5 separate regions of the Homo sapiens genome follow, and all the other regions are linked to region 2. The links come from fine-mapping of genetic effects on gene expression. A gene starts in region 2. Each other region holds a variant in brackets. All regions are shown on one strand. Distances are from middle to middle. Region 1 holds the start of LOC105377571 (a long non-coding RNA gene). Region 2 holds the start of TENM3 (teneurin transmembrane protein 3). Region 3 overlaps TENM3 (teneurin transmembrane protein 3). Region 4 has its middle 190 kb from the start of TENM3-AS2. Region 5 overlaps TENM3 (teneurin transmembrane protein 3).

Evidence for each region. PIP is the estimated chance that this variant, and not a neighbour inherited with it, causes the effect.
Region 1: its variant is fine-mapped to the expression of TENM3 in breast (GTEx, PIP above 0.99).
Region 3: its variant is fine-mapped to the expression of TENM3 in testis (GTEx, PIP 0.96).
Region 4: its variant is fine-mapped to the expression of TENM3 in fibroblasts (GTEx, PIP above 0.99).
Region 5: its variant is fine-mapped to the expression of TENM3 in skeletal muscle (GTEx, PIP 0.95).

The regions. Positions count from the first base shown.
Region 1 is chr4:182,766,582-182,771,687 of GRCh38, reverse strand. The region is part of intron 22 of TENM3 (teneurin transmembrane protein 3); the gene reads right to left. It overlaps LOC105377571 (a long non-coding RNA gene), which reads left to right and starts at 4,298. Exons shown (of 3, transcript XR_939528.3): 1 at 4,298-4,474. The variant T/G (reference allele first, on the strand shown) is at 2,847.
Region 2 is chr4:182,241,345-182,246,450 of GRCh38, reverse strand. It overlaps TENM3 (teneurin transmembrane protein 3), which reads right to left and starts at 3,049. Exons shown (of 28, transcript NM_001080477.4): 1 at 2,975-3,049.
Region 3 is chr4:182,727,631-182,732,736 of GRCh38, reverse strand. TENM3 (teneurin transmembrane protein 3) reads right to left here. Exons shown (of 28, transcript NM_001080477.4): 14 at 3,556-3,772; 15 at 2,418-2,537; 16 at 1,598-1,859. Among named protein-coding and RNA genes, the nearest start is that of DCTD, 190 kb to the left of the region's middle. The variant C/G (reference allele first, on the strand shown) is at 2,827.
Region 4 is chr4:181,635,491-181,640,596 of GRCh38, reverse strand. It overlaps a transcript of TENM3 not described here. Among named protein-coding and RNA genes, the nearest start is that of TENM3-AS2, 190 kb to the left of the region's middle. The variant T/C (reference allele first, on the strand shown) is at 2,993.
Region 5 is chr4:182,448,579-182,453,684 of GRCh38, reverse strand. All of the region lies in intron 3 of TENM3 (teneurin transmembrane protein 3), which reads right to left. Among named protein-coding and RNA genes, the nearest start is that of TENM3, 210 kb to the right of the region's middle. RefSeq lists a silencer at 4,665-4,714. The variant T/G (reference allele first, on the strand shown) is at 3,051.

The sequences.
Region 1 (5,106 bases), 530 kb before region 2:
GCGCAGAGTTACAGAATTATTGACAAAACCAGCCTAAAGTTCTGTCGTTCAGTTTGGCATAAGTCTTGCAGCAGATTACACATCTCATGGTATGATGTGAAGAACGTGCTATCGGGTTAAAAAAAATTAATGCCCTTTTGAATGCCTCTACATAGGAGAATTCTGTATTGTACTATTTCCCCCCCCCCCATTTCAGAGACGGAAAATGAAAATACGACGTGGTTAGCTGATTTGATCTGGCTCTCACGCTATCTCTTGACTGGACCATAACTGGGACTTTTGTGCAGCTGACCCCAGGCCCACTAGCCCTCCTGTAGATCACAGTGCCTGATTTAAAGCTGGGAACTCTAGCTTTATATAGATTGTACCACCTGCAAGCAGCTTGCTGATTCATTCTCCTCTGCCCTTTTTTGACCCTTTTGCTGGTTTATATTTTCTAGCCCCATTCAATCTGAAGCAGAAACTTCACCTTTCTCCTGTAGAAAGCATTTCTGCAACCTCTGACTTTGCTCTTTCATTGGCTTACCACACATTCCATTCCCTGCTGGGCAGGCATTCTATATCACAGGATCCTCGGCACAGGGAGATACAGCCCAGGAAGCTGAAAGTTCAGACTCTCACCTATTAGCCTTTGGTTCTTTGGGAAATAAAAATACAAGTAACCTTTGTAGGTAGTACAGTTAGAATGACAGAGGGTTAAGCTGGGATCCTAGCGGCCCAGCTTAACAGTTTAGCCCTGGAAGTTCTGAATTTGTGCCTTCTAAGGAGTAGCTGAAGCTAAGTGCAGGCACTAACAGGGCTGAAGTGTTTGCACAAGGAAGGCTGCTCCGGTGTCAGGGTCCTCAGAGCTCCTATCTAACCCGGCACCCAACAGTTTCAGAACAGCCTTTCCGTGCAAGCTAAAGCGTGAGGATATTGTGAAAACAGAGAAGTCTGGGTGAGCAGAGGTCATATACGTGACAATTTAACTATTACAAATGAGTGTCCTGTGAGGCTACCACTCACCAGAGTGAGCAGAAGGGGAGATGTGTTCACGCTGACATAGCTGGGGAAGAGCTGCACCCAGGTGGGGACCTGGCCAGGTCCCGGAATAGAACTAGATATGCCTCTGGGCAGATTCTCTGCTTATTTGCAACTGTGTGGCTCAACTGAATGTTGCTTGGCCTTAGTGGTGAACTAGACTGTGGGATCAGGCAGTCAGGCAGGGGCCCGGGTGGGGCTGGGAGGGCTGCGGAGGAAGGTGTCGGGGTGCAGGGGCCCGGCTGAGGCACAGTGGCCAGCACAGAGTCATACTGGAAGGGAGCCTTGGGTGGATCTCCTCACTGGAGAACATGAGGTGCTGAAGAAGGTTTAAAGAAAGCGGGGTTTTAACGAGGAACCTAAGGTGGGGGTGAGAGTGGCTCCCTGACTTGCCAATTTTACAAACCATGAAAAAAATCAGGGATCAACACAGGGTTTTTAAATTAAAAACTACTACCCGTTACTCCCATCGTTTCATAAGGCCATTTAAACATATCAAAGAGAGGCGGGACCTACCTGTAGGGTGAGTTCTTTCAAAAGAACTGTTTTTTTTTTTTTTTTTCGAGACAAGTCTCACTCTGTCGCCCAGACTGGAATGCAGTGGCATGATCTCGGCTCACTGCAACCTCCGCCTCCTGGGTTCAAGCAATCCTCCTCCCTCAGCCTCCTGAGTAGCTAGGATTAGAGGCCCCCGCCACCACGCCCAGGTAATTTTTGTATTTTTTAGTAGATACGGGATTTCACCATATTGGTCAGGCTGGTCTCAAACTCCTGTCCTCAGGTGATCCACCTGCCTCGGCCTCCTAAAGTGTTGAGATTACAGGAGTGAGCCACCACGCCCGGCCAAAAGGACTGTTCTTTATTTATGTATTTATTTATTTTTTGAGACAGAGTCTTGCTCTGTTGCCTAGGCTAGAGTACAGTGGTGCGATCTTGGCTCACTGCAACCTCCGCCTCCCAAGTTCAAGCGATTCTCCTGCCGCAGCCTCCTGAGTAGCTAGGATTACAGGCGCCTGCCACTGTTTCTGTAATTTTTTTGTGTATTTTTAGTAGAGACGGGGTTTCACCATCTTGGCCAGACTGGTCTCAAACTCCTGACCTCGTGATCCTCCCGCCTCGGCCTCCCAAAGTGCTGGGATTACAGGCGTGAGCCACCACGCCCGGCCTAGGACTGCTCTTTAAAAGCAATGAATAAAGCTTTATGATGAAAACATTCTCCACATCATTTTTTTTTTTTTCATTTCAGTGCGGACGAGTAAAAACTTTTTCACAGATTAGCACCTATGTCAACAGAAATGAAAACGAGATGAAGGAAAGACATCAGAAAAATGACCCGGGGACTCTGACTAAGGGAGTGAAAGAAAATGTCTTCAAAGACGACTCTCAGGTACTTCCATAAACATCAGGCTAACTCTTCTTTACCTCCACAAAAGAAGAAAACCAATGCACCCACGAATGTCCAGCTAGCCTCTGAAATACTCTGACTCCAGGTCTTAAAAAGACCTTTCCAACAACTAGATATGCCTCTGGGCGGATTCAGATTCTCTTGCTTATTTGCAACTGTGTGACTCAACTGAACGTTGCTTGGCCTTAGTGGTGAACTAGCCCTGCCCAGCTTATAGATTTGAGAGGTAGTTTTCCTTTATTAGCTTTTTGAATGTACAATGCAATAGGCTCCAGGGAATTTGAATAGAACATCAACTTCATGCCCCCCATTGCATTCCTCTGGCCTTAGCCTCATGGTTTCAAATTCATAACACAGCACATTCCTTCCTGCTCCTGCCTGACCCCTCTTTACAAAGGACTCTCGCTGGAAAGGACAAACT[T/G]CCTCAGGCTCTCCGTGACCTACCGCTCTTCCACTGATGAGATGCCCTTATTTGATGTTTATCTGTTTGTTGGTCTTTAATTTGGATTGCATGTTTGCCTAGTTGCTGTTTTAGCTTTTGTGGTATATTTTTAAATCTCTTTTTAAAGTTTCCTAAGTAGTGGGATTATCGACAAATGCCTCGGAGAATCACAGCCTCAGTCATTCTCAGCTGAGAATGCTATATTCAACCTGACGTGAAGCTCCTAACTTTCTCCTTTTCCTTGGTAATGTCTCTCAGATATTTATCTTTCTATTCCCAGAGCTTCCCTAGACTTTTAAAATGGGTCTATCTGCCTCTTCCCATATTCACTGATACCAAATCAATCTGAAACACCATGATTATAATACCTTTCTACTTAAACATCTTCAGTAGATGCTCATCTGAGAGTAAAATCAAGTGATTTAGACTGTTACCAACCCAATGTCAACAGCCTATTGATGTTGCAAATTTATTCAAGTGGAAACAATTTGCAGTTCTCGAAAACTTTCTTTACAACTTGACAACAGGAGTATTTATCGTCTTTGGTGCTTCCCCATAAAATGGCTTCTTTAACCAAAGGTTATGTTTTTAAAATTATCTTCTGCTTTTGAGAAAAGTACGTGTAAATGAGAGCACAGCTTTAGAGAAGCGCATACACCAGGGCAGAGAAGTCATTCTAACTCTGGAGGTGGGCTCTTTTGCGGAGTGACGTGCTCTTTATCCCTTCTGTGGATTGTCAGTCCAGAATTCAGCCTGACCCTGAACTGGCCCGACTCAAACACGAGACCAGCATATGTCGTTACGTATATACTGGCGGCAATGCCCTCCCCACACCTCTGTCATTTTCACCTAGGGAAGCCGGAGTGAGAGTCACTGAAATGTGACTGCTTTCTCCGGTCAAAACCAAGCCTGTTCTGGGCAGGCAAGACAGCAGCAGATGTTGGTTTGGGTTCATTCTGAAGGCCTCCAGATGGGATAAATGTTCAAGTTTCCTCATGAGTGGGCCTTCCTCGGGTCTTCCTCAGGGCCATCCCAGAGCTAGCCTGCTTTTGAGAGCTGCTTCGTGGGTTACACGGGTTTGCTTTCAGACTTGGATCCCAGTAAGAACTCACATGAAGGACTTAATTAACCCATCTTTCTCCCACTTTCACTATAATGTGTATGTGTGTGATGTGTATATATAGTATACGTAGTGTATATACGTGTGTATGTAATATACACACACACCCACCCAGAAACACACACACACATTTTATACAGAGGGAGAATCTTTTCTTCCATCTAACAGAGTTGCGTAGGCTCAAATTTCCTTCCATAGTTTAACGGCCAACAACAACAAAAACAAACAATCCCCTCCATCTTGTCACCGGTTACCGCAAGACTTTTCCCACATTGCTAATTTGTAACAGCCTCGTATCTGTTGTTGAGGTGAAGTGGAACACAACTACTAACCCCGTCATGACTAAACATGTAGGCATAAATCACTCCTTGATCGTCCTTCCTGAGGAGGGACTTGTGCACAAACAGCGAACCCGGAACGGCGGGCTGATGCGGAATCTTAATGGCAATAATGTGATTTGCAACAGCAACAGCGAAAGATTTTACATGTAAGTCTTCTGAGAAGGAACCTATGGTTTATGTATTTTAACAATTATCATCTCAAAGACAAATCATAATTTGTAGCAAGGTAGTAAGAAATCCTCAAAAATCAGGTTCTGGATAGAAAATGCTTCTATCACCAAGGGAAACAGAGCAGTCGCCTACGCCCACATCATGGCACCACCTGATACTCCCCTGCCTGCTACCTACCTATTATCAAAAATGGCAGGGAAAATGCAAAAGAAGGAAGACAAAAGAAAGTATTATTTTACGTGAGTTTGGTCTTGGTGCTAAGGGGATCCTGATGAGAAAGGGGTGAGAATTGTATGGGGTGGGTGTTGGTAACCCCAATGCGAATGTCTTTGTTGCTGCTGCATTTAATTAGGAGGTCTTGCTGATGGGGCAAATTCTGACCCGTGCTTTGCTCCATAAAACCAGAAAGGGTAGCAGTCTGCAGTCAAGCTGCTATTCTTTTTTTTTTCAAACACCCCCCAGCTAACATGAGTTCAGAGGCATGTAGACAAGGGCAGAGCCTCCCCCACTCCTCTCTGGTCCAGCCCTTTTGAACGCTGAGCATAGTGATAGATGGTCACAGAAATGACATTTTCTTCAAGAATCAAATTCAAAAATAGTGACCCAA
Region 2 (5,106 bases):
CCTAGAAAAGGAAGACATTTCTACCTCCTGTGCTCTTTCAGAGCGGGGCCTGCTTCGTGTCCACTGCTTATCTAAAATGTTATTCCTGAGGGGCGGGGGTGGGGGCTCATAGCGAATCTCATTCATAAGCGCTGCTTTGTTTTTCTCTCTGTGTTGCTTCCATGACTTCTTTTTAAAAAATTCTTTCTTCCCCTATGCCTTGGGGCTGCTGGCAGTGGTGGTAAATCCTGCTGATGACCCGGGGTTAGATAATTAGTGGTACCTAGATTGCATTCATTTTATCAATGAGACAACTTCTAGGAGTTTCATTTCAGGCCACTTAGGAAAACACATAGCCAGAAGGTGCCACCCTCTGCCATAGCGGTTGCTGCCTCTGTTTGTTCAACATAAGAGACAAGTGAGCTCTTACGCTATTTCCCGTGACTTGCAGAGCCAGGGAGTGCTACCAGAAAAGGAGTCACTGTTAACCACAGAGTGAGGATCCAGCAGGAGCGCCCGCCAATAAAATGTTACATCGGTATCAAATATAAATCAGAAACAGCTTTCCCTAAATTCCTATATTTATTAACTAACACAAATCTGTAAAATCACTGAAGGCAGTTATTGTTCTACTGGTTTTATTGCTCATCAACGGAAAAGTTAAGAAACCAGCTCAGAGTCCTAAAGCAAGTTGCAGCATTGACACAACAGTAGCCTCTTAATCCCTTTCTCTCTCCTGTGGCTGGCCCTGGAAGAGAGGAAGTTTTCAGTCCTATGGCCGTGTCACATGTCAATATCCTGGGATAACTGGTTCCAAAAGATTCTGGCAGGGACTACGGTCATCACATTAATCTAAAGAATGGAAGTAACATGTGGACTGCCTCAGTTCAAACAGACCACAGTTGCTAAACAGAGACCCAAACTGGGCCACGACGCTGCCTTCATTTAGGAGACGAGACAGAATTTAAAGGAAAGCACTGATTGCTGGAAAAGCAACAGAGAATTAAAACAAAATTTGCAATCTCAATTGGAATTTCTGATTTACTCTTGGGGCCACCTGAGAAGCAATGTGTGACACAAATCAACAACAACAGCAAAGAAATGAAGATCAGATAGATTCCTTTCTACTTGCTCTTTCACTTTTCTAAATGATGCCGGAGGATGCTACATCACATGAGACAGAGCAAAGTTGCTGGAGCCACTCTCTCAAGAGGACTCTGGGGCTGGAAACAATTGTGTCTTGTTCCCTGACACAGTCTTGGGAAACAAAGCCCATGGATTAAGTAAACTCACCCAATGATCCCATCCTGGGCAAAAAGAGAATGATTCCAGCATGCAGACCCTCAGTATTCCCATAGCAAGTGACCTCTGCCCATTAAACAAACAATAGCACAGCCTAACACTCGATTGTTTTGAATGTTTCTGAAGCCTTTGCTTCATTCCCAAAACACTAGAAAGTATCACTGCAGAGGATTAAAAGCATTCATTGATTATGGAATGTAGACATTACAATAAAAAGAGACTCTAGAAATTTAATTTTGTGAAGAAATGCAAGATTCTCATTAATTTAATTAGAACATAAATAACATCAAGCATAGCTAATAAAGTTCAACATGATTTGATTTGCATGAGGCTCTATTAATGTAAGAAGTAAAGTGATATTTGCAAACTCTCAGAAAGCTGGACAGTTGGAATGGTTTCCTAAACAGCTATCTATTAGGCTACACAAAACTTGGTTTTTCTTTCCATATGTTACACATCATGAGAATTACACAAATCTATGACAGGGACAAAAGTGTTCCTGGACCACTGGAGGGAAGAGCCTGGGAACTGAGGATTCCAGGAGACCCGTCTTCCTCTTCATATTCTCCTCTTGTCCATCAGTTTAGGAGCCAGGCTAAAGCTGAGGCATCTTAAAATTTCGGAATGGGAAGGAAAAATAACATTAGCTACCCTGGAGGCTGTGGAAATAAATGCATCTGAATGCAAAGGACAGTGACTTGCAGGCTGCCTGAGATCCAATAAAAGCCTCATCAGAAGTAGCTGTCAATCACTCTAACATGTATGGCTGGTTCCAATAATTCTACCAGTCAAGATAATAAAATTTCAGAACACTAAATCAGCTCACAGCAAACCAGTTAAAAATATTTTGTGATCGCCGTGACCACCATGGTGGTCTAATACCCTGGGTTATATGTTTTAATAGAAAACACAAATGAGGCCGGGCGCGGTGGCTCACGCCTGTAATCCCAGCACTTTGGGAGGCCGAGGCGGGCGGATCACGAGGTCAGGAGATCGAGACCATCCCGGCTAAAATGGTGAAACCCCGTCTCTACTAAAAATACAAAAAATTAGCCGGGCGTGGTGGCGGGCGCCTGTAGTCCCAGCTACTCGGGAGGCTGAGGCAGGAGAATGGCGTGAACCCGGGAGGCGGAGCTTGCAGTGAGCCGAGGTCACGCCACTGCACTCCAGCCTGGGCGACAGAGCGAGATTCCGTCTCAAAAAAAAAAAAAAAAAAAAAAAAAGAAAACACAAATGATTCCATTCTTGGAAGAGTCTATCAGTTAGCACTTTGAGAAGACAGTCAGCCCTGAGTGCCCTGCCTCTCTTTCATTTCCTTTCCTAAGTACTGGAACCTCAGTCACAAAAGAAAACCAATATTTAAGTCAACAGACATACATTTAAAATTATTTCGCTGATGTGACTATGAATTTTACTTATAAAACAAGGACGTGCTGAATAGTTCACAGTATTTTTGGTGTGTTCATTTCAAGCATCTTGAACTGCTCTTTTCCTCAGCTTCCGTGTCCCAACACTGCCCAGATTTGCCCTCTCCATCTTCAACTACTTTTTTCCAGTCTCCTTTTTAGACTTGTCTGCCCTCCCCAGTTTCCAATACCTCGATACTCTCTTCTCATCTTCTCCTCCTTTTCTTCTAGGCTGTCTCATCCGTGCCCTCAATTCCCACCTCTCTACAGATGACTCAGCAACTTACCTTTAGTTTATCCTTAGTTCAGACTTCTCCTCCAAGCTCCAGACCCATCTAAAAGCCTTCATGGCCAGGTGCGATGGCTCATGCCTGTAATCACAGCACTTTGAGAGGCCGAGGTGGGCGGATCACTTGAGGTCAGGAAATCATGACCAGCCTGGCCAACATGGTGAAACCCCGCCTCTACTAAAAATACAAAAATTATCTGGGCGTGGTGGTGCATGCCTGTAATCCCAGCTACTCAGGAGGCTGAGGCAGGGGAATTGCTTGAACCCGGGAGGTGGAAGTCTCAATGCGCCAAGATCACCCAACTGCACTCCAGCCTGAGCGACAAGAGCGAAACTCTGTCTCAAATAAATAAATAAATAAAAGCCTATGTGACATTTACCCTTAAGACATTCTAAACACATCTCCAATACATCTAAAGTTGAATTCATTGTAGCCTCTCTACCACATAGTCGCCCTGGAATGCTTCTAATCTCAGTGAATGACATCACCGCCCAATTATGCAAGTCAGAAACCTAGTGATTATCTTGCTTACCTCTCTCTTAGCCTCCGCTTCTAATACATTATCAACTCTTGTCAATTTTATTTCCATCTCTGATAAGCACTACCCACATACAGGCTACCATCATCTCTCATCTGAACCACCACGGTAGGAAGATCTAGGGTACAGTTCAGAGAAAGCAATCAGGCAGGAAAACCAGTAAGTTTTATTGTTTGAGACAGGGCCTCAGTCTGTCACCCAGGCTGGAGTGCACTGGCGCAATCTCAGCTCAATGCAACCTCGACTTCCCAGGCTCAGGTGATTCTCCCACCTCAGTCTCCCAGGTAGCTGGAACCACAGGCAAGTGCCACCACATCGGGTTAATTTTTGTATTTTTTGTAGAGACGGGTTTTCACCATGTTGCCCAGGCTGGTCTCAAACTCCTGGGCTCAAGCAATTCACCCACCTCAGCCTCCCAAAGGGCTGGGGTTATAAGCATGAGCCACCGTGCTGGGCCACCAAGAAGTTTTAAGAAGGCAAATTGACTGGATTAAGAAAATGTGGCACATATACACCATGGAATACTATGCAGTCATAAAAAAGGATGAGTTCATGTCCTTTGTAGGGATGTGGATGAAGCTGGAAACCATCATTCTCAGCAAACTATTGCAAGGAAAAAAAAACAAACACCGCATGTTCTCACTCATAGGTGGGAACTGAACAATGAGAACACTTGGACACAGGAAGGGGAACATTACACACCGGGGCCTGTCATGGGGTGGGGGAAGTGGGGAGGGATAGCATTAGGAGATATACCTAATGTAAATGACGAGTTATTGGGTGCAGCACACCAACATGGCACATGTATATATATGTAACAAACCTGCACCTTGTGCACATGTATATATATGTAACAAACCTGCACCTTGTGCACATGTACCCTAGAACTTAAAGTAAAATAAAAAAAAAAAAAGAGAGAGGAAAAAAAAAAAGAAGGCAAATTGGTGGAAAAGGCATGTGGCTGACAGTGGAGAAAACAGATGAGAGCAAAACTGAAAAGGGTCCACTGGCTTCAGGAATAAAGAGGTTATTTGTGACCACGGAGAGTCATTTCAGTGGAGAAGCGTTTTTAAAAGAACGGTCAAGCCTTGTGCATTTTACCTGTCTGGAAAAAGAAAGGGAAAAGGAAAGCCGGGCCCAGTGGCTCATGCCTGTAATCCCAGCACTTTGGGAGGCCGAGGCAGGTGGATCACGAGGTCAGGAGTTCAAGACCAGCCTGACCAACATGGGAAAACCCGTCTCTACTAAAAATACAAAAATTAGCTGGGCATGGTGGCACATGCCTGTAGTCCCAGCTACTCAGGAGGCTGAGGCAGGAGGCCTGAACCTGAGAGGCGGAGGTTGCAGTGAGCCAAGATCGCAGCATAGCAACAGAGCAACAGAGTAAGACTCCGCCTCACAAAAAAAAAAAAAAAAAGAAAGAAAAAAGAAAGGGAAAAGGAAGCGACTGAAGATAGGAGAATGTGGAAAAAAATTAATGGAGCCAAGGATCCAGAGGAAGCAGAGGGGAATGCCACACAGGGCCCAGGTAGAGGGGGCACCACTGAACAGAAGAAGGGATGAAGGCATGTCTTTTTTGTTAGAGAAAAAC
Region 3 (5,106 bases), 490 kb before region 2:
TCCCACCTCTGCATCCTGAGTAGCTAGGACTACAGGTGCATGCCACCACGCCTGGCTAATTTTTTGTATATTTTGTAGAGACAGGGTTTTGTCATGTTGCTCAGGTTGGTCTCAAATTCCTGGGCTCGATCCATCCTCCTGCCTTGGCCTCCCAAAGTGCTGGAATTATAGTAGTGAGCCACGCCGCCTGGCAAAATCCATTATTATTACACCTAACATCCTACTTTTAAGATCTGAAAGTTATTTCTAACTGGAAACATGTGGGACGGAACACAATCCTCAGCTATTTCAGTAGATGAAACGAATGGGGAATGCATGGCTATTTCTTAAAAAGTTATATTAATGAATATTTTCTGTCAAAACTACCTTTTCCAAAACACTTTTTACTGACAACAATAATTAAACAGTAAGTTATTGAGGCTAATAGCCATGTGCAATAGTGAGTGGTGTCAGTAGCACTTGGTACAATGTCAGTCAAGCTGTCAGGTACATTTAGGCACTAAAGTTTTTTTTCAATAAATAAATAAATGAACAAAGACATTATTAGTGATTGAGTTTAAGCTACAGTTTCATTTGACTATTATTAATAAATATATAAGGTATATCCTGAAGAAAAAGTATTTTGTTTGAGTAGATCTTTAAGAAATAACTAGAAAGGCCGGGTGCGGTGGCTCACACCTGTAATCCCAGCACTTTGGGAGGTCAAGGTGGGCGGATCACGAGGTCAGGAGATGGAGACCATCCTGGCCAACATGATGAAACCCTGCCTCTACTAAAAATACAAAAAATTAGCTTGGCTTGGTGGCAGTCGCCTGTAGTCTCAGCTACTCAGGAGTCTGAGGCGGGAGAATGGCGTGAACCCGGGAGGTGGAGCTTGCAGTGAGCCGAGATCGTGCCACTGCACTCCAGCCTGGGCGACAGAGCGAGACTCCGTCTCAAAAAAAAAAAAAGAAAAAAGAAATAACTAGATATCCTACTATAACAATGTCTACTGTAGGACACACACACACACACACACACACACACACACACACACACACACCCCAACACCCACTATATATTCATTCTATAGAATTATTTAAAGATAGCACTGGAATTCTATAATCCGTGGTTTTTTTTGGTTTTGTTTTTGTCTTTTTTTGAGACAGGGTCTTATAGAATTATTTAAAGATAGCACTGGAATTCTATAATCCGTGGGTTTTTTTGGTTTTGTTTTTGTCTTTTTTTGAGACAGGGTCTCACTGTGTCACCCAGGCTGGAGTGCAGTAGTGTGTGATCTCGGCTCACTGCAACCTCTGCCTCCTGGGTTCAAGCGATTCTCCTGCCTCAGCCTCCCAAGTAGCTGGGACTACAGGTGCCCATCACCATGCCCGGCTAATTTTTTTTTGTATTTTTAGTACAGATGGGGTTTCACTATGTTGGCCAGGCTGGTCTTGAACTCCTGACCTCATGATCTGCCCACCTCGGCCTCCCAAAGCGCTGGGATTACAGGAGTGAGCCACCGTGCCCGGACTCTATAACCTATTTTTAAGATTCTCTGGCAAAACATGATCTGAAGATCTTGTATTTACAAGTACTGCCTGTGAGAATATTTTACCTGTGTTTCGGGAATGATGGGACTGTCTTCAGGAGAAGATCTGAAAAAGGTGGATAAAGGTGATGACACAATGATGGGATTTGGCCTCACGAATCCACTCAGATCACAGCTGGGAATGTCATTCTCTTCTTTCTTCATGACTAGGGTATCCATCACATAAAAGACATTCCATGGAATCCACACAGTATGATACTGAGTGAGGAATGGGGATCGTTCAAATACCAAAGTTAGAGAGGCCCCACCATTTGCCACCAAGTCAAACCTAAGAAAGAACAAGGTATGCTTAGTGAATTGTCTGGATCCCACATAACTACCAATACACACCTCCTTAAGTTAATATGCTTTATAAAGAAAATCAACTTTTTCTCCCAACTTTTATATGAAATATTTTCAGATCTATGGGAATATTCCAAGAGTTATACAATAAATACTCTTGTGTCCTATGTGTATTCACCAAGTTCACCAATTTTTTTTTCCAAATTTGCTTTCCATTGACTCTTTTCTCGGAACCATCTGAGCTCAAGTTACAGACATTATAAAATATTACCCCTAAAGATTTCAACATACATCTGCTGAGACAAAGAGCATTCTCCTACAAAACTACAGTATTACCATGCCTTAGAAAATAAAATCAACTTTTGAAGAAGTATGTGAGTATATGACTTTAAATCTCTGCCATATGTACTGTCACAAGTTTGTAGAGTCTAAAAAGTTGCTGCATTTCCATATTTAAAAGGACAGTCAAACATGACAGTGGTACAGGAAGGTCTAGTTTTTATATTTCAAATCCTTCAGAGATAGTGTGATGGGACTAACTCACATTCCGTCCTGGCGGGTAATAGTATATCCATATTCTGGGTAATGGAAAAACGAGACATTTACTCCAATAAGTGGAGTTCCATCAGCAGTCAGTACTTGGCCTCTGATGACAGATGCAAGGCTGTTGGAAAAGCAGAAGAATGAGAATGAACATCTGTCTTTTCAGGCCAACATTATCATGATTTATAGATAATTCAACCTAAGGATAAAATAACACTATGCTATGCAATCCATCGTTATTCACAAAAATCAGACCTGAAATACTCCCAAGACAATGTCCCTTTTAATTCAGTGTAACGCATATTCTCTAAAGGGCTTGTGTTTATCCTGGGTTTTAATTTGTGGCAATCTGTTTTTTGGAGCGTTATCAAGACTAATAATTTAGAGATGAATTTTTAAAATGATAAACT[C/G]TGTGCTTTTTTCATAAGTCATATATATGGTGCTCACATGAAGAAAAGTAGACTTTCCAATTAATTCTGAGGCAATCAGTAAATCTTCAGGGACCAAGAAGTATAAGATTTAAGGGGGCGATAAGGAACATTTGTACAGCAACTTTGAATCAACTGCTGGCTATAACTGCATTAATGCTGTTAAATTACTGCAGACCCAGGAGTTCTGGTGTAAATCATCTTCTTTTGCTCAGTGAGACACAAGACACCTGCTTTCACTTACTGCTTTACTTTCAGGTCATTACTGCTCTGCAAAGCACCAGTCAAACAGCTTATGCAATCTTACTGCCATGCCGTCAGCAGTTCCATTACATTCATTCATAATTTATATTATTTAGTGAGCTCAGCTAAAAAAAAAAAAGTGCACTTCTGTTCTGCCTTTTGGGGTCTTTTCACTGCTTCTTTTGAAACATTTCCAACTGTGCTAACAAAATCAACTAGTTAAATGAAGATTTATTGACTCTTTAATATAATGTCCTGTTATGTCTCAGGTACTGAAATTGACAAAGTATGTGAACTGTGTCAAAAATGCTTGAAATACAAAGTTTGGTGAAGAATCTGCAGAAAGAGGAAAAACTGTATTTAAAAAACAGCACTTTCCTCAGGTTCACAGTCATGAGTATTTCACATAAGTGTATGTAACTGTTGATAACATCATTACAAATCTACATATGGAAAAGAAGCATTAACCTCTTATTGAAAGGACTTTCTCCAGGTATAACATGGGTGCTATCAGATCCTATAAGGAAACTGATTCGATCATAAAAGGATTTGGCAGCTTGCTGAGAAGGCGATTGAAGGCTTTGGCTAATGATGTCCTGAGGATCCGGCAGTCCCCGACAATAGGGCTGATTCTGGCAGGAACTCTGTAGGCAGCAATCGGGATCCATGCAGTCAATGAGTCCATCTGTAGAGAGAAATGTTCCCCAGTAAGAGAATTTTCCTTTTGATGCCATAATGTAGAATCAGTTTTGTTTCTTGACTGTTTTTTTTTTTTTCACATCAAGTGATTTCTCCCGACTATCTGATAGTAATTTCTATGAGGCATACTTTTTGAAACCAGAAGAAATAGAAATACAATAGTCACATGCCACATAATGACAGACCATATATAAAAGAGTGGTCCCATAGATAATAATGCTGTATTTTTACGGTACCTTTTCTAGGTTTAGATACACAAATACCACTGTGTTACAACTGCCTCAGTATTCAGTAGAGTAACATGCTGTACAGATGGGTAGCCTAGGAGTGCAGTAGGCTGTGCCATCTAGATTTGCGTAAGTACATGCCATGATGCTCTACCATGATGAAATTGCCTAACAGCAACTATCTCAGAACATATCCCCATCAGTATGTGACACATAAATCTACTTGCATCTGCCTTCATAGAGAGTAAATATTTGGATTAGAGATGGCTGAAAAGAATCATATAATGTTTGTTCTGAGTAAGAAATAAAAAAATTAGTGATTAGAACAATCTATTGGTAGGAGTATGAAGGAATATGGATTAGTTGTAAGTAAAGCTACTCAAATATTCTATATTTTAGAGAAAATGCACTAGGAGTTAGCACAGTAAGTGTGTATGATAAATAGGAATCTATGTAGGACGAAGCTCTAAAATTTGGGAGAGGGTCAGAAAGTGAAAGTTTATGAAGTGTAGCAAACACAAATCAATATAAAATGGATGAGATGAGCCAACCACCTTTCAATAAAATAGCTCTTCTGGCCGGTGCAGTGGCTCATGCTTGTAATCCCAGCACTCTGGGAGGCTGAGGTGGGCATATCACCTGAGGTCAGGAGTTCGAGACCAGCCTGGCCAACATGGTGAAACCCCATCTCTAAAATTAGCCAGGCGGGGTGACAGGTGCCTGTTGTCCCAGCTACTCAGGAGGCTGAGGCAGGAGAATCACTTGAACCTGGGAGGCAGAGGTTGTAGTGAGCTGAGATCGTACCACTGCACTCCAGCCTGGGCAACAGAGCAAAACTGTCTCAAAAAAAAAAAAAAAAGTTCTTCTAAGGAAGGTTAAGTGTGTTCCAGATAAAATCAGGCATTTCCCAAATTTTAAACAAGAGCCTGGACTCCTAGAATACACTCACTAAAATGGAGGTATTAATTAAAATGTGGTAAATGTAAATCAGCCATAATATTAGAAATAATAAGAAATCCATCATGAAAAATTGACCTATAGTATTGATGACATAAAAGGAATAATGGATGAGAAGAATTTGCCAGTGCTTTCT
Region 4 (5,106 bases), 610 kb after region 2:
AATGCTGGGCCTGCTGGTAATCATGCATAAGTATGATAAAGGGTGTTGTGTTGGAAATTTTACATCATTTGAGACAGCTTCAGAGACGTGGCAGAGGAGGTATAAGGAAAAGGATGGCTTGTAAGTAAATAGATGCCTGCAGGAAAGCACTATAACAATCCCTACATCATGAAAGCAGTGATGGGCAATTGTGAGTCAAACCTGGAAGAAACTAAATTTCTTTGACCAATTTTGTTTTACCTTTGCACTTTCCAGTTGCTTCTTTTGTTAGGATGTGCCATGATCCATTATTACAGTGGTTCTCTAACTTGCAATCAGAATCACCTGGAGAGCTTGTTGATGCACAGATTACTGCATTCTATCCCCAGAGTCTCAGGCTCAGTAGGTCTGGAGTAGGGACTGAGAATTGGCATTTCTATCAATTTCCCAGGTGATGCTGCTGTTGGTCCACAGAACTCACTAAAGCCCCTTCATCTTCTTGATGTCCCTGCCTACCTGTTCATTCAACTGTCTTCAGCTTCTCCTTTTGGTGAGTGCTGTCTGTGTACCACCAGGACGTGGCTGATACACTTGGGTACCTTTTGCCAATTATTATGGAGATAAATGTATTCACTGCATCACAAAATAAATGGCAAAGCGACACGGCATTGTAAACGGCACTTGGCACAGTCCTTATCCAGCCCATACGCCCACACACGCAGGGGCTGTGCAGCCCTCAGCCTTACTGGCAGGAGTTCATCTGTTGGGGTGGATCTCCTTGGCCGAGAAGTAGGAACAAAATCAGGAGTGTGTAGTGTCACAGTAGCTAAGGGAAGAGCACCACTCCGAGGGTGGTGGGGATTTATTTATTTATTTTGAGAATAAGTCTTGCTCTTGTCCCCCAGGCTGGAGTACACTGGCGTGATCTCGGCCCACTGCAACCTCTGCCTCCTGGGTTCAAGCGATTCTCCGGCCTCAGCCTCCCAAGTAGCTGGGATCACAGGGGCCTGCCACCATGCCTGGCCAATTTTTGTATTTTTAGTAGAGACGGGGTTTCACTGTGTTGGCCAGGCTGGTCTCAAACTCCTGACCTCAGGTGATCCACCCGCCTCGGCCTCCCAAAGTGCTGGGATTACAGGCGTGAGCCACCACAGCTGGCCAGTGGTGGGGATATTAACCGGACCCTGTCATGGGATGATGGTGACATAGTGCTGCAGGGAGTGGAGCTGCCTTGGCTGCATGTGGATGGTCACAATGAGGTGCTCATTTGTATAACTAACTAGGGTTCAGGGGGCTTGATGCATTCATACAAAAGAAATAATCAGCAAATAAATAAAATATCTCTTAAGTCAATATGCCATGATATGCTTGCTATTTCATTTGGGTTATTATGCCTGGTTACATTTTTGCTGTGCCATTTCATTTCTTAGTCCATCATTTCCCATAGCTTTTTGCTCTTGATATCCAAGCAGAGTCCAGAAGAACTTTCTGCTATGTCAGATTCATGGACTAAACAAGGACAAGTGATGACAGGAATACACTTGAAGTATTCCCAAACAGTCAAAAAAAATGCAAAACAAAATGAATTCTAGGCCACCCTTTTATTTAACAATTTGTCCAGTTAGATCATCTGTGAATCAATTAGGTACAGCATGATTAGAATAAGTTCTGCAGCTTCATGCATGAACAGTCTTTCAATATGACCTTTGGGCTACTACTAAATGTCAGTTATTAATACACGGATGTGTTAATTTAGAAGCTAATTGCCCTTTTTCATATATGAGACCAAAATATGCAGGTGCATCTCTGCTGATTTAAAGGAACTCTGGAATATATATATTTGCAGTTTTTATACATAGTGATTATTAAGGAAAGTAACATTTTAAAAAAACCCACCATCTCAAACTATGATGATCATTACAATTGATGTATTATGTTTTCCAATAAAGTTTCCATTTTTACTACAGAGAAAATGGAGTACAGTAGCAAAAAGAGCAAATCTCTCTGCTCTCATAATGAATTTTTAAGGTTCTAAAGCAGTGAAAAGGTTCAGACAGACTAATGATCTTTGGACTTCAGGATTTCAACCTCTGACTTGGATTTGTTCTGCAGATGGAACATTCTATGTTGGTGAGAGCAGGAACATGGAAAAGTTGACATTAATAATTTTTATACTTCTTAAAAGAAATACTGGGTGATCCCCAAACACAGGGGGGCATTAAGTATTTTTCTATGCAGCCACAACTTCACAACTTTCACGGCCTTATCTGTACATACTTGCTGAAGATTGAATGAATGAGTCCCAGTGCTTACGCTGGAGGAAACCTAATCTGATGCCCACTTATTCGTGATTTAATTACTTATTTGGCCAACATTTTCTGTGTGTCTCTCAATTAGGCACTATGTCAGTCTGTGTGGGATAAGTAGGTTCTATTACCAACAACCAGTTTAAGTAGAATGATAACCATGTCTTGATTTTGAATAAACCAATTTTTAAAAGTTACATAGTAATAAAACTCAATTACTAGGTAAAGGGAATAGGATAAAGTCACCAAGGGCAAGTGTGTCCTGTAGACGGTCTCACATCTTACTTTTCCCCTTCCTCTTTGCCAAGAAAATGCCTGCGTGTGGTCCAAACCCCTTCTACTGATGAACTACAGCTGGGCAGGATATACCCTGTCATTCCTATGCACCCATCCAGCAACTCATCCATCTACCCATTTACTCATTTGTTCACTCAGAAATTATTTATTTCTGTTCTAGGCTCTGAGAATGTACCAATGACTGAAATGAACAAAAATGCATGTCTCACGGGCCATAGATTTTAGTGGGAGTGACGGACAACAACAAAACAATAAATGAGTACAAATGTAACATGTTACAATTGGTAAGTGCTTGCTACAGACAATGTCTGTGTCCCTCTCACATTTGTATGTTGAGATTCTAACCCCTACTGTGATTGTAGGAGGAGGCAGGGCCTTTCGGAGGTAATTAGGTCAGGAGGGTGGAGCCT[T/C]GTCAGTGTTCCACCAAAGTTTTGGCTTTTCCTCCCACAGTGTGAAGATGTTACTGGAAAAACACGGGCTCCTCCAGGGACTATATTTCCAGGTCTCCTTCACGTCTGGATAGGAACATTTGACGAGTTTTGCCACTGTCATGTGCATAGAAGTGACGTGTGTCATTTTCTGGCTTAAGGAGTGGGTATAAATTTCCACCTACTCATTCCCCACCCATGTGCTGAACACACTGGACTCCACAGCCCGGAGTTGCTGGGGGAGCCAAAAGACGTGTTTTGTTTCTTAGTCACCACATGGAGGAAAGTTGCTCGTGAATCAGGAACACTCACATAAATAAGAAATACATTTCTATTTTGATAAGACACTGAAGTTTTTTTTGTTGTTGTTATAGAAACTATAGAATAATTATAACTAATTTTGCAGAGGAAAAAAGGATAGGAGTTGCTGAGGAAGAAGGGGCTTCGCAATCTTGTAGTGTGGTCAGAGAAGGTCTTCATGGGAAGGTGGCCTTCACTTGGAGACCTGAAGGCGGCAGAGAGCAAGGCATATGGGTATCTAGCGGGAAAGCCTTTTTAGAAAGAGGAAACCGAATGTGCAGTGTGTGTAAGTGGAAGTTTCTCGGGAACATCAAGCGAAGCGAAATGGCTGGAGTGGTGTAAACCAGAGGGGTAGGGGCTGAGGTCAGAGAGGTCATGGGGAAGTGTAAAGGATGCAGGGCATGATAGCACTGTAAGTACTTTGGTTTTTAATCGAAGGGTGACGGGAAGCCATCAGGGGCTCTAAACAGAAGAGCAGTGACATGATCCGTTTAGCTAACAGGATTACTTTGGTCGCTGCGTTGAGGATAAACCGAAGAGGGAAAAGCAGAGAAAAGAAGAACTGTTAAGATGCTATTCCAATAATCCAGTAAGACACGATGGGCGCTTGCACTGAGGCGCTGCAGCAGAGGTGGGGAGAAGTGGGTGGAGTGTGGGTACATCAAGAAGGTAGCGCCAAGAGTAACTGCTGATGGATTGGCTGGGCACGTGAGAGGAAGAGAGGAACCTGTCATGACACAGTGATGGTTTGCTTTGTGTGTCAAAGATCAGCTAGAATGTGGTGTCTGTTATTTGGCCAAACACTAGTCTAGAGGTTGTTATGAAGGTATTTTGTGGATGTGACTAACATGTGCAATCATTTGATTTTAAATAAAGCAGATTATTACCCTCTCTAATGTGGGTGGGCTTCTTCCAATCAGCTGAAGGCCTGAAGAGCAAGAAATGGCCATGGGCGGTGGCTCACACCTGTAATCCCAACACTTTGGGAGGCCGAGGCGGGTGGATCACGAGTTCAAGAGATCAAGACCATCCTGGCCAATATGGTGAAACCCTGTCTCTACTAAAAATACAAAATTAGCCGGATGTGGTGGCACGCACCTGTAGTCCCAGCTACTCGGGAGGCTGAGATAGGAGAATCGCCTGAATCTGGGATGTGGAGGTTGTAGTGAGCTGAGATCACATCATTGCACTCCAGCCTGAATGACAGAGCGAAACTGTCTCAAAAAAAACCAAAAAACAAAAACTGAAGTTTCTCTCTCTTTCCTTCCACATGTGTGTACATATATATACATGTATGTTTATGTATATTTATATATGGCATATGTGTATCTATATGTTAGCAGGGAAGAGGGAGCCCACGATGTAATTTCCCCCCAGTTGCCACAAGAATGGCCATGTCTGTTCAATTCCTGACTGTGGCCTCCTCTCTTGATTTGATCTATGTGAGGAAGCCCCGTCTCCCTCCAGAAGCCTATGCTATTACTGTGCTCTGCAACAATTTTTTTAAAGCTCTTGCACCCTTTCTTCCCAGGAAATCCTACAAAGAAAGCTAATATGTAAACATGTAAAAGGAGAAGCATCACCCTAGGTTGAAAGCGGAAGTGGTAGGCCTCTGTCCTATCTGTTCCTCTCCACTCCACCCTCTCAGCCCATAGAAGTTCCCAAGGTAGCTTGGTGGCTCTCTGAGCCCAGCTTGACAACCACTGTCTTATGGAAGAGATCCTCTGACAGGTTTCCTGGGGATCAGCATGGTGGAACCCACACTCCCCACTTAGGTAAGACCCTTGTTCACCTGC
Region 5 (5,106 bases), 210 kb before region 2:
AAGGCACTGTGCACAAACCAGGATGAAAACAACTCACTGAAACTTCCACACATCGTTTTAATTTTTTACAAATTTTAAGTTAATATATATAACCACAAAAGACTAAAGTGTTTTTTATGTTAGTCCCATATTAGTCATTTTGTTACATTTTGTAATATATTCTGCCTCCTCAATGTACAAACCAAGACATTTATGTCAAACACTATTTAATATTAAGTGAGGGGAATGATAACATTTAAGAGAGAAACTCTGTTTTTCTTTTAAATACTATAGTATGTCGTTTCCCAAATTTAACTATTATTTAAATGTGACATGCCCACAAATATTTGCGTGTACTTTTCAATTATTATTCCTCCCTTGTAAAATGAATTTACCATCGTACCAACATAACATCTGTGGCATAAACTGTTTCTGGGAGACCAAAAAGGTAGTGGTTTTCAACCTGCAAAACAACTGCCAATAGTAAAATTTTTACTTTCAACAGTAAAAATTAAGAGTAGACATTTCAAAACTTAAATACATAGGATTTCAACTGAAGAGCTGGGTCTGTAACAAAAATCAATGTATAAACAACAATCCTAAAACAACTGGTTTCTTAAATATGAAAATACCATCCTTTCAAACCTGCTATATATGTATGCATATATATATATATATACACATATAAAAATAATCTCTATAGTACACACATTGTTATTCTTTATAGGGAAAACCAAACTCGGACATATCAGAAGACAAGGTATTCCAAATACCCAACAAGAGAACTCAATTCAGGTCAAAAGGCCTTATGCAAAAATGAGTATTAGAATAACTTTTCATCTCAGACAAAACTCCAACAAGAGTTATACAACTTTTATTTATTGCACATTATCTATTGCTAGAACTATCTGTCATACCAAATTGATAAATCTAAGCATAATAAATTTCTAATGCAAAACATCTCTTTAGAATAAAGAAGTGTGTTACTTGGGCTTTAAAACAGTCAATGTTTCTGGATATGAATCACTTCACGTGATTATAGCCAAAATAGCACTTATCATTCATAACTTAAAATCCATATTTATATGCTTTAGATTTGTCTAGATCAAAGTGATCCAGCAAAAAATTTCACTAATGATCCTAATCTGAACCTTTGGGAACCCGCCTGCTCCTCTCTCCCACTCCTCTAATAGCCCTTATCCTTTCATTCCTTTCTCTCTGCCAGGAAGTTCCGCAGCTTGTATTTGTGACTGCAGTTGTGTTAGCTAAGAACCAGGCCACTGAAAGATCTAACCATTTGGCCACAACTACTTAGAAGTTCTGGTCTAACCCAGAAGGGTACAGTTTACTGGACACCCCCCCGCCCCCCGTCCCCTGCCAAAAAAAAAATCTAAAAAGAAAACTTCTGCTCCTAATAATTTATTTATTTACTTTCTTCACCAAACCATTCTATCTCCTTCATGGTACCATTTTCCCACAACATTCAAATATCCTTAAGGAAGAACATCCTATTTCTCAAGTGTTAGGTGCTAAAGCACTCACATCTATGATAAGATAGAATAATTACAGCCATCCTTTAATCTAAACTACATATGTCTGTATGTGTGCATGTATACATATAGATTTTCACAGAGTAAGAAATCCATAATAAAGCATTAATATATCATATTAGTGTGAAATTTAAACTTTCTTTAAATGAGGCAAAGTTACTATAAAATAACTCATTTTAATAAAAATTTAAAACAAATATATTGTCCTGTATTTAGCATTTACATCTGGATTGCTAGAAAGGTGGCTTGTTAAAAATCTTTATTCACAATTGTTTAAAGTAAAGCCTACCAAACGAAATAAATTATAAACATAAAGAACTGATGTTCCAAAGCCCAGTCTCTTAATTGCTGATCAGAGCTGAAAACAGATCTTTTTTCCCCACTAATTGAATGAGTCTTGTTAAATCTTTTGAAATGAACTTTAGAAAATGCAAGAATACAGCTTAGAACAGGTTCTTTAATTTGGGTCATTTTCTGTTACTTGCAGTAGTGACGGGTGCTTAGCAACGCTGTTCTGGTGGCCCTTTTAAGGGAATGAATACCTGAAATACAGCATTTTAATCTATTTTACAGCATTAATTATCAGGATCACTGTATTTAGACAGTGCCTCCTTTGCCACTTGCCTACGTTATGAAAGAAAGGAGTCCCGTGAAAAATTGAATGTATTATTCCAGATGCCAGAAGATCCTGTGCACCCCTTTAACCAAGTAAAAATATGTAGGAACATAAAAACTAACAGTAAATAGAAGCCACAAAAAGCTTTAGTTTAAATGTTTAGACAAGGATATTACACTGAAAATCAGTGTTCAGACATCAGTAGAAGAGTCCATGTGAAGTCGCTTTTCTTTTTCTAAATCTTCGAGAAGAATTAAATTCTATTATGCCCCACACTAGGCCACTGCTATCTAAGAAACGTGACGCAACAGCCAAAATTTAGTATGATTTTATTTGGTAATTAAAAATCTGCTGAATACTTTAAATATTTTTTTATAAAAGAGGGCTTTTACATAATAACAAGAATATCATTTGAATTATGGCCATATTTACTATAATGTGCTGCAATGATAAACTACTGAGAAGGCAAGAAAACAAGGTAAAATGCAGGGCTACCGAGCAGTTTCTAAGAAATCAAACTGCCATGTCATACTCTGGAAATACGTCCATTCACATCTTATTAATGATCAATACAACAGGTTAAGAAACTAGTCATTAAAAACATTTGGAATGCGCCTTTCTATCTTTTCCTGATGTCAACTGTCATTGTTAAAAGTACAACTCTTTTAACTTTTTCCTCATAATTAAACAACTCATTTTAGATATCATGTCCTGAAGAAGGAAGGTAACGCTCTTATACAGCACTATTCTTCTCTATCTTCACAGCTAATAAGAGATCAAGTGACTCCCTCTTTGTCTAGAATGTACCCTAATTTCAGTCTTTCACAGCCAATTTTTTAAAGCTTTTTAACACTTAGTCTCTGAAGATGAGAGAAAGGAACCAGGTGAACCACCTGCATTCATAT[T/G]TTTGTGAGTTTCAGTCTCTCAGTTAATGTATAATCACCACCTCTTTAAATTAAACATACTTTATAGCGGATCTCAAATTCATCATCACATTGTGTAAATCACAGTATAAAATGGGATAACACCAACATTTCTCAAGTTTTTTAACCTCTTATAGCAGATGGCCTCTGCCTAGAGTGTTTTGAACGCTGCAGTCGCATTTTAATACCTGGGAGTCCGCTGGAAAAAAAAAACAAAAACAAAACAATGTGGGGCACAGACCAGTACATGCTGCACTAAAATATTCGGCTGAGAGGGAGGCTTAGTTAAGTTAGCTGATTTCTTAAATGCCTTCTCTGGGTATTTGCAATCCTTTCTTAAGTACTACTTTAACAATTAGCACACAGAGGTCTTTGGATGGCTCTCTGAAACATTTAAAACCAGAGAACAAAAGGTTTATTTTAAAAATGAAAACCTTGGCTTGTACAACTCCAGACGTGAATCTGCTTTCAATTACTGAAAGTATTTCCACTTTAGTGGAAGGGGATCAAATCTTCAACTACACCATCTTAAGGCACTGAATTTGATTATATTAGGCTTTCAGAAGACAGAATGACTTTGTGACACAGGCACATATAGCTGTATATATCATTTATAAGATATTCCAGAGAGACAGAGACGCCAGCACAGGAGAGGGAGGAAATGTGACTTTCTCATTCCCACAGCTGCCACAGATCTTTGTTTTATTGAACTACACACATCAATGGCAAATGATTTTTACTTCAACAGATACAGCACAAGTTTTTCCAAACCATCTCCAACTATCTTTGCACAGGAGTAGCCTGCATCGAAGCACAACTGCAAAGTTGAATTTCTCTGAGAGACTGCTCTATTAAACCTGACAAAAATCACACTACGTATTTCGCAGGCAAAAGACTGCTCTTTAATGAGCAAGCTTATTTTGTACCTTTTCCCCCATTAAGCAATTAGTATGATGGATTTTAGTTAATGGAACCAAAGGGCTTATTAATTTAAGCTCAATGCCGATTTTTGCACATTTCAGACATAAATTATCCAAAATCACTACTGCTAAGACTAGCTCCCAACGAATTCGTAAAAGTCACCGAATGCAGGCAAAAGGGCAGCTTTGCCTCACGGATTAGGACAGTACACTACTCATAAAAAAAAAATCCATCTAATTAAAAATACCGGGAACAAAAGACTCCATTCTCCCCGCGGCTACCTGCACCACTCCGGGTGACGAAGAGTCATCGAGAAAGTTCAGCCTCCATCTCTTCGAAATCCTTAAATGTGGTCCCTCAGGGGTTAAAAAGCCACCTCATCTCAGATGCGAATGTTGCCTCCGCACCGATTCAAACCCGCGCCGAGCCTCCTCCCATTCCGACACCACAAGGGAGAAGAGCGGAGCCGCCGCCGCCGCCGCCGCCACCACCGCCACCGCCACCGCCGCGGTCCCCGGAGCGAGCGAGCGACCCTGCCGCGCGGGGAGCCTCACCGGGAGCCGCGCTCCGCCAGCCCGCCCCAGGCCGCCGCCGCCGCCGCCGCTCACCCACCTTGCCGCGGCGCGCCCTCGCTGTGGCCGTGAGGAACCGAGCCCAGCGCTGCCAAGTTGCCTGGGTCTGGAGCGTATCGTGTTACAGCGCCTGGCTCCGGGCTCGGGCTGCGCGCGGCGGCCAGACATGATAGGCTGAGGCTCCTCTGTTTACACCCGGCCGCCGAGGGGGCGGTGCGCCGCTTAACCCCTTCGCGCCGGGCCGCCACCGCCGCCTCCCGCCAGCCCCGCGCCCAGCGCCCCGGCTCGGCCGCCGCCTCACCCCCTCGCCTCACCCCCTCGCCCCGCTCCACACACGCGGGCCGGGGCCTGTGAGCAGCCGTGCCCCCAGCGAAGACGGGGGAACTGCACTGAGAACCCGCTCCCGGCACCCTCCGAAGACCCCGCGGGGCGGCATCCTCCCCTCCACACACGCACGCTCGCGAGCCGCCCCGGGCAGCGGCCGTGTTCCTCGGCGGGGCTTCGCCGGCGGCTTTTGATCCCGCCTCAGAGCTGTTCTCCGGCAG